Homo sapiens: one gene and its partner. The protein of the gene in region 2 interacts with the protein of the main gene of each other region in a pairwise test. Each region holds a gene or a part of one and is shown on either strand. Other genes may lie near its edges.

The links. Proteins that work in one complex are often made in the same cells at the same time.
Region 1: the proteins of FAR2 (region 2) and PEX11G come close enough for resonance energy transfer, tested with the Homo sapiens proteins (one large-scale study listed by BioGRID).

What each region holds. Positions count from the first base shown.
Region 1 is NC_000019.10:7,476,375-7,479,035, forward strand, and holds the end of PEX11G (peroxisomal membrane protein 11C), read right to left. Parts: exon of another isoform or gene 2,003-2,661; coding exon 1,940-2,002; exon of another isoform or gene 1,063-1,939; coding exon 828-1,062; 3' UTR 501-827; downstream 1-500. UniProt on the Homo sapiens protein: Promotes membrane protrusion and elongation on the peroxisomal surface.
Region 2 is NC_000012.12:29,155,007-29,160,516, reverse strand, and holds part of FAR2 (fatty acyl-CoA reductase 2), read right to left. Parts: intron 1-5,510. UniProt on the Homo sapiens protein: Catalyzes the reduction of saturated but not unsaturated C16 or C18 fatty acyl-CoA to fatty alcohols (FAls). A lower activity can be observed with shorter fatty acyl-CoA substrates.

The DNA.
Region 1 (2,661 bases), on a different chromosome or scaffold from region 2:
GTTGTGTGTTCCTGGGCCAGGCTGTGCAACAATGTCTGCCAGAGGCCACATGTGCACAGACTCTGAAGGGTTGTTCTCAGCCAGCAGACTAAGCAGTGCCCTCATCCCATCCCACCACACATTGGCTGAGGTGGGAGCCCCAAGTATCTTCAGCGATGCCAGTGTGTGTTGCCCAGTCTCAGCCTGGAGCCCTTAAAATGCTCACAGTGGCCCTGCGTCGGCAGCACAGTGGCATGAGGCCACGCCCTCGGGTGGCCTGATGAGAGGTGGCGCCTCTGGCCTGTGTGCCCAGGACTCTGGGGAGTAGAGAACAGCCCTCAATGGCTGGAGGCCACTTGGGGTCCGTGGGCAACGCTTGCTCAAAGATGGAGAGGACCCACCGGGCTGAGGGCATTCCTGAAGGTGGGCTGGGGTAGTGTGGTTTCCAACTTTGGGTCCGTCCTGTGGAGGGTAAGGGGCCAGGAGCCAGCAGTGTAATAACCTTCACCCCTGAGCCAGGCGCCAGCACCACAATGTTTAATTGATTCCCGTTCCAGCTTTCTCAAGGCACGACAGGCCCCCTCTTCCTCATCTTGATTTGGATACAAGACGCCAGCTGGCAGGCAGGAGGTGCTGCTGAAGCCCTGCACGGCCCCTGAAAACTGTCACGGCTCAGGAGCTCCAGGCTGAGGCCTGGGGGACCTCGCATCAGTCCCTCCACCCACCCTGCCCATGGGTTTCACCACAGGCAGCTCCATGAGAGCCCCGGCCCCTGCCCTGGCGGCTTCTGCTTTGCGGGAAGGGCCCTCCGTGGGCTCTGGCTGTGTCCCTGTGCTCTTCCGGCAGTGTCAGGGGGTAGTGGCCTCGGCCTGGCCGCCGGCCCGGGCCGCCTGGTACATGCTGAGGATTGAGGAGATGGTGCCCATGAGGCCCACTAGCCACGGCGGGAAGCGGCCGGCCCACAGCACGCCCCGGGGCAGCCAGTGCACGGCGTTGGCCAGGTCGGCCAGGTTGCTGAGAAGTGACAGCGCCTCCGACTGCATCTGCGCCTCCATGGCCCTCCGCTTGCCCCGGGGCAGCGGGCTGTGGGGCAGAGAGGGGCCGCTTACACTCACGCTCACACCTGCCTGCCCTTCCCAAGCCCCTGAATGCCCTGTGTGGCCTGGCAGCCCTGAGCCCCTGCCTGTGAGTGGGAGGAGCTGGCAGGACTGAGGTGGCCTCCCTGACCATCCACAGAGACTGAGTCCCCATCACCCCCCCGACCCAAGCACGAACAGGGCAGGAACCCGGGTCCAAGTCCTCAAATCCACACCTCACTCCTCGTCCTGAACACCCAGAGATGGGGATTCCTTGTGAAAAACAGAAAGCACAAATGCACTTTGGGAGGTGTGGAGGGAAGGGGGAACCCCCAGGAGCGTGGCCTGTGCCTGCCCGGCCTTTCTTTATCAGGATGACACAGTGACGATAAGCCTGGCCAATATGGCGAGACCCCATCTCCACCAAAAAATAAAAAACAAAATTAGCCAGGCGTGCTGGCCCGTGCCTGTAGTCCCAGCTACTCGGGAAGCTGAAACAGGAGGATCAGTTGAGCCCAGGAGGCAGAGGCTGCAGTGAGCCAAGATGGCACCACTGTGCTCCAGCCTGGGCAACAGAGCAAGACCCTGTCTCAAAAAACAAAAAGAAAAAGCAACAGTAACAATGGCCATGGCCTTCGGGAAATTGATCATTCTCTCCTGCTGGGGGCGCAGCCATGAAGGCTCAGCCCTGGAGTCCCCGCTCAAGCAAGCCTCAGTTTCTCCATCTGTAAAAGGTACCGCCACCCACCAGAGGCTGTGATGACTCCCCCATGACCTGAGCACAACAGTCCCCAGCATGGGCCTGCACAGGGGTGGCTGCGAGCCGGGATCCCACGCCTGCTGGAGGGAGTGGGCCTCCCTGCTGGGTGATCACGGGCTCCTACCTGGTGAAGGGCGCCGTGGGGCTCCGCAGCCTCTGTCTCAGTTTCAGCAGCATCCACAGGGACCTGCAGCACCAGAGCCCGAGGGAGGATGCCCCGGCGGGGAGCAGGAGGGTTAGCTCCACAACGCTGGCCCCGGACATACAGTCTGGGACAGGTGCTGCATCTCGGATAAACGGCCTGCCCTCTCCCTGCCCCCACAGTCCCACACCCTCCTGGCTGTGCCTCATGCTCCCGGGGACTCATCTCTAACACGGCCCCGTCCCACCCGGGACATCGTCCTGCACTTCTGACGTGGCCATCCAGGGCCTGGCCCAGCCTCTGCAAACCACTGGCAAGTGCTCAAAGGAACATCAAGCCCCGTGAGGTGTTCACAGCCTGGCAGGGAGTCCTACACAGAAAAGGATGCCAAGAGGCCCGCAGTTGGACAGGCGTGGGGACGCCGTTTCCCCTCCGGGCCTCAGCTGCCTTGTCTGCTCTGTGTGGAAAGGTCCAAATCAGTGCCATGCCAGCACCCCCTGCACACACACCCCGGACATTGGCTGGACCTGTCTGGATGATCCCCTGGGCCCCCAGGGCTGGCATCTGCAGGCTGAGGAAGGGGCTACCCAGTGGGCAGCCTCTGTGCTCCCAGCAGGCTCTGCAGCCGTGCATGGCACCCACCCGGGCCAGTCCACCAGGCACCTGCACTCTCCAGCCTCGGCCGTGGGGTGTGCCGGGTTGTG
Region 2 (5,510 bases):
GCCATATAGCAGGAAGTTAAGTAACTTGCCTTTTGATACGCAGCCATATAGCAGGAAGTGAAGGTGATATCAAGGGTTCTTCTGCACCGGAAACACCCACCTCCCACAGTCTACCTCAATTAGCATCTCATACACTTGGCAAGGCTACTGTAGGGAATGGAGAGCCATGGAAGGTGTTATGCAGGGGAATGACATAATCCTTTCTCTGTTTTGGAACAATGTAATGCTCATGAATCACTGAAGATGAAATATAAAATCCTATGTATCCCAAACAGCTGTACAGTCTCTGTGAGGAATCTTCAGAAGGCATCTTTCCTGAACTGACAGTGGCCAAAGTCTAGAGGACTTCAAGGAACTAAAATGGCCCACTTAATGGCTCCTAAAGCAGTCATTACCCCATGTTGTTCTGGTCATGAATTCTGTGAGAATCTGTTGAAAGCTAGAAATCCTCTCATCAGACAATGCCTGTACTCATCTAGTTCAGGAGAATAAGTAAGGACTTATAGGGCAGATGGTTGGTTTTTGATCTTGCCTCCAGAAATAAAGACAGATAGCTGAAGATAATGGGGTTTTTCCACTTATCTTAGAGGAAGTAAGCAACTAACTACTGATCCTATGCCAAGATTCAACGGTATCATTCTGGAAACTTCATAACTTCTTCACATTGGTTATTTTTGCTCTTCCCCTCTCACTTTCCCCACAAGGATTAGCACTTAAGTACTTAAAACACCAAGAGTTTGTGTCTATCTTTAGATACAGAAGGAAAGTAAAGCTAGAGGATGCAAGCTACGTCTCAGCCAGTTTGAGGAAAGAGAGGACCTGGTGACACAGTGAGTAAACGAGAGGAGAGACACACAAGCTAATAACCCCCAAGCCTTGCGGTGGTGAATCAAGAACATTGTTTTCTGGGGAAGAATTTTCATGATCTTCCCTATGGAATTTTTCATAATTCATTTCAACTCTATTTCCCATCATACCCTCTTTTTTTTTTTTTTCCGAGACAGAGTCTCACACACAGTGGCGCAATCTTGGCTCATTGTAAGCTCTGCCTCCTGGATTCACACCATTCTCCTGCCTCAGCCTCCCGAGTAGCTGGGACTACAGGCACCTGCCAACATGCCCAGCTAATTTTTTGTATTTTTCGTAGAGATGGGGTTTCACCATGTTAGCCTGGATGGTCTCGATCTCCTGACCTCATGATCCGCCCGCCTTGGCCTCCCAAAGTGCTAGGATTACAGGCATGAGCCACCGTGCCCGGCCTCCCATCTTACTCTTATTGGTGTTAAGTGCTTGGTGCTATGGGAAGTCAAGTCATTGACTGGGGCTAGTTAGAAGAGGGAAGAAGGGAAAATAAAGATATATGAGCATTGTATATTTACACATTGGGTATCATTACTGAAAAATTGCACAAACTCCAAGTTGCAACCGGCCAAATATTGCTCAAAGAGTAGGGAGTACTAAAATTTGAGGGCTGGTACTATAACTTGTTTTGCATTCTATTTGCAAAGCTAAACACCCTGCCTGGCACATAGTAGGTACTCAGTAAATAGTACAAATGAATAAATGAATGAATGGAATGGAATTGTCATGGGATTTGCAGTCATAAGATGTGGATACTAGCCTTGATGCACCCACTAACTAGATGTGTGACAAGCCACTTTACGTCTTCAGGACTGGCTTTTATTTTCTTTAAGAGAATTGAACCAAATATAGATATGGTACTTGAACATTCTACAATTTCCAGTGTGAATATACTTAGTTAAGACAAAGCTATTTGCACTCACTACTATGTACTGTAGACAAGATGGTGTGATATGTGCCAACATATAGTATGTCTAGGAGTTCAAGGAAGTCTAATTTGGGAAAAGTTTGTTCTGTCCTAAAAGAAACTGAGACCTAAATTTATCTAAGTGTCATCCTGTGATCAGCAATGCATTCAGCGGCACTTGCATAACCATTGCCTCCGGCAGGACTGCACCAAAATAGCAGAAGGAAAAGAAGGAAGAGGCAATGTCACACTTCTGCTAAGAAGAGAGTTATGGCAAGTACAAGTTGCTGAGAAAGAAGCAAACTGCTCATTTGGATGAAGGAAATTAATTCTTTGAAGCCATCAAAGATTCCTGCAGCTTTGAGAATAGTTTGGTAAGTGGATCTCAATCCCCAGAAAACTCTTTGGTAAAAGAACAAGTGCCCATCTTTTAGATCATGTGCTTAGCTTCAGGGCAGATATGTCCTGAAGGTCTTGTGTAAACAAAACACAAGTGAAATAATATTCAATTCAAAATGAGACAATAGTTACAGTGAAATAGAGAAATACAAAGTTGGTTTTTTTACTTATTATTATTTACTGACATCAAGTTGGTTTCATTAATATTTACTTAATATCTATCAGAAACAAATATTATTTTAAGTAAACAGTTTCTCTTAAGTTTTAGGCAAATTGCTCTATGATTTCACTAACTGAATACCATCCATCTTTAAGATGCTAAAACTATGTTACTTCTATCCATACAACTTTCAGTATTAAATATCCTTTATTGAAAATAATAAGCAAAAATCTTTAATACATGCACAAACACTGACTTGTTACAGTTTCTTTTACTCAGTTTATCCATTTCTTCTGGGCAGATTCTTTTGGTTTCTTGACAATACTGTGCACTGGTGAATCTAACTCTGCTGGAAGTGCTTAAGTGGTTTCAAATATGTTGGGACCAGACACATAACTTAATTGCCATCCTAATTTCCAAGGATCTTGCTTTCAAGGATACCTGGGATTTTTGCTCACTTCTGTGGAATGTGCCCTCACAATGACCTGTGATAAATAGTGCACGATTTTTAAAAAATGATCTAAAATGTGGGGTGTTTTTATAACTATTTCTCATTTCTTGGCTCAGGAAATATTATTCTTGCCTCCTATGGTCATCCTGTTATTCATCAGCAGATGCTACTGATCCAACAGCTTCCCAGCTAAGATGGAAGGATGAGTAAGTGGTTGGAGAAGCCATATTTTTGTCTTTTCTACACAAATTCACAGGGAGGAGTGTTTGCTTTCTCTTCCTCCCTTCAGGTGTGGGCTTCAATGTTTTGGGGCTGTCTCTGGAGAAGCCTGGGAAGTTAAAATGCCTTAAAAGCAAGATGTCCAAAAGCCATAGGGGATACATATTATCAACTGCAGGATGAAAAATGCTTTTGCAAACCTGCAGCAGTTAAGGATACAAAATGATCTAGGACTTCGAAATAATACAGCTAAATCAACAAGCAAATGTTATTCTTAGTGTCTGGCAATTACAGTAAGGCTTTTTTTTCATTGTTTAACCACATTGTTTAATCAATTTTCATTGTTTAATTGCATTGTTTAATCACATTGATACATATATATATATATATATATATATATATATATATATATAAAATGTTCTTTGCTTTAATACTGGTGTTGATTAAAGTGGGAAAATGTCTATTGAATGAAGATGTCACCTGAAACCAGTCCTCTTTATAAAGTTAGATATCTCACAGAAATCTTCCAATCAATATGGCTGGCAATGAGACCCATAATCCAAACTCTGTGATCACACAGCACACCCTCGTCTGAAAATATTTTATGACAGCAGTAACAGAGCCAAGCACCAGGTCTCGAAGGTCTTATTTTCTGACTCTACGTTCCATGGAAATACCTGGACTAGCTATTCCAAAATCTCCCCCTATGCTGTGGCAGCTACTTATGAAAGCCCTGGGGATCCTCACGCCAAAGATTCTGATTCAGTAGGTTTAAGGTGGGGACAGAGAAATTTGTATTTCTGTCACCCAAAATTGAGGCTGTCACCCCTAAACTACCACTATTCATATAAAAGTGTGCATTAATAATAAAAAAAGATTGGCTTCATTATTGAAATAAAAATCAGAGGCGACTACTCATAGGAAATCCAATCTGCTCAGAGGTAATAAAATAAAACAGTTAAGTTATATTAGATTTAATTTCCCCCTTACCTCTGGATGCCGTAGTTTTATTTATCTGAGTGCCTATCCTGTATATATGAGTTCAAATGTTTGAATAAAATTTACAAGTGATCACCTTTGCGACTGTCTTCTGCTCTTTACATGGGCATGTAGCGTTAGCAACACCAGCCATCAACAAAAACTGGCATTGTCACGACTCCAATGCCAAAAATAGTTTGTTTCATTTTTAAAATTAATATTATTTTAAATTTACAAGTTATAATTTCATACATTCAGAGGATACAGTAGCCATCACTTATCTTTTTTTTGGTGAGACATTTGAAATTTACTTAGTTATTTTTAAATGTACATTATCATTGACTATAGTCATTCCGCTGTGCAGTAGATCTCAAAACGAATGCCTCCTGCCTAACTGAAAATTTGAACCCTTTGACCAGTAACTTCCCCCCACCTCCCCACACCCTGCACCCCTACCACTTTTTGCCTTCAACCTCTAGTAACCACCATTCTTCTCTCTACTTTTATTTATGAGTTCAATATGTTTAGATTCCACCTAAAAATGAGATGATGCAGTATTTCTCTTTCTGTGCCTGAATGCCAATAATGTTTGAGGACCTACTAGGAAGTCAATTTAACTATTTTATTTCTATCCCCTCATAAATTAAATAAATGAAAAACAAAACAATTAAGATTACCTATGGCAGGTGAGTTTCATAGCCTTAGAGCAGGGGTCAACAAACATTTTCTGTAAAGGACCACAAGGTAAATATATTAGGATTTAAAGGTCATAATAATTGATTGGTTAGGGCACTAAAGCAGTCATAGCCAATAGGGATGACTAGACGAATGATACAAGCTGTTTTCTGATAAAACTTTATTTATAGACACTGAAGGTTAAATTTCATATACGTTAAATTTCCTATAATTTTTCCCATGTCACAGAATATTATTCTTTTGATTTTTTCTAAGTTTTAAAAATATAAGAACCATTCTTAGTTCAAAGAATAAACAAAAAGGCAGGGGCCAGATTTCAGCCTTGGGCCAAAGCTGCTGACCCCTGGGCTGGAACACAGAGCTGATGAAGCCAAGGAAGAATTCTACAGCTGTGTGAACCTGTTTCTTCCATTATGCTCTGCTGCACTGTTCTTTGGCCATAAGTTGCATTTCTGCTTCCAGCCTACCACCATGCAAATGCATGGGGATCCAGGAAGTGGATATATGAGACTCAAAAACCAATGTTCCTACAGATGCCCTATGTAGTCACACTGTATTGCCCTGCAGGGGATGGCTTACAAAGATCAGATAAGGCCCAGGCCTACCACGGGACCTAAGAGGCCCTGGGGAGTCTTCCCCATTGTTTATGCCTCAGGTCACATGTATGAAACAGAGACTTCACAAAATGTATCTTGATGAGGTCCTGCAGAACCTTGCCAAAGAAGTAGAAATGAAAAACAATTTTGCTTTTAATCAGACTGCAGATCCTGTTTCTGAATATCATCCACAGAGCAGGGTTGTTTTCATCATCAACTTAATGCCTATTAACAGAGTCAATT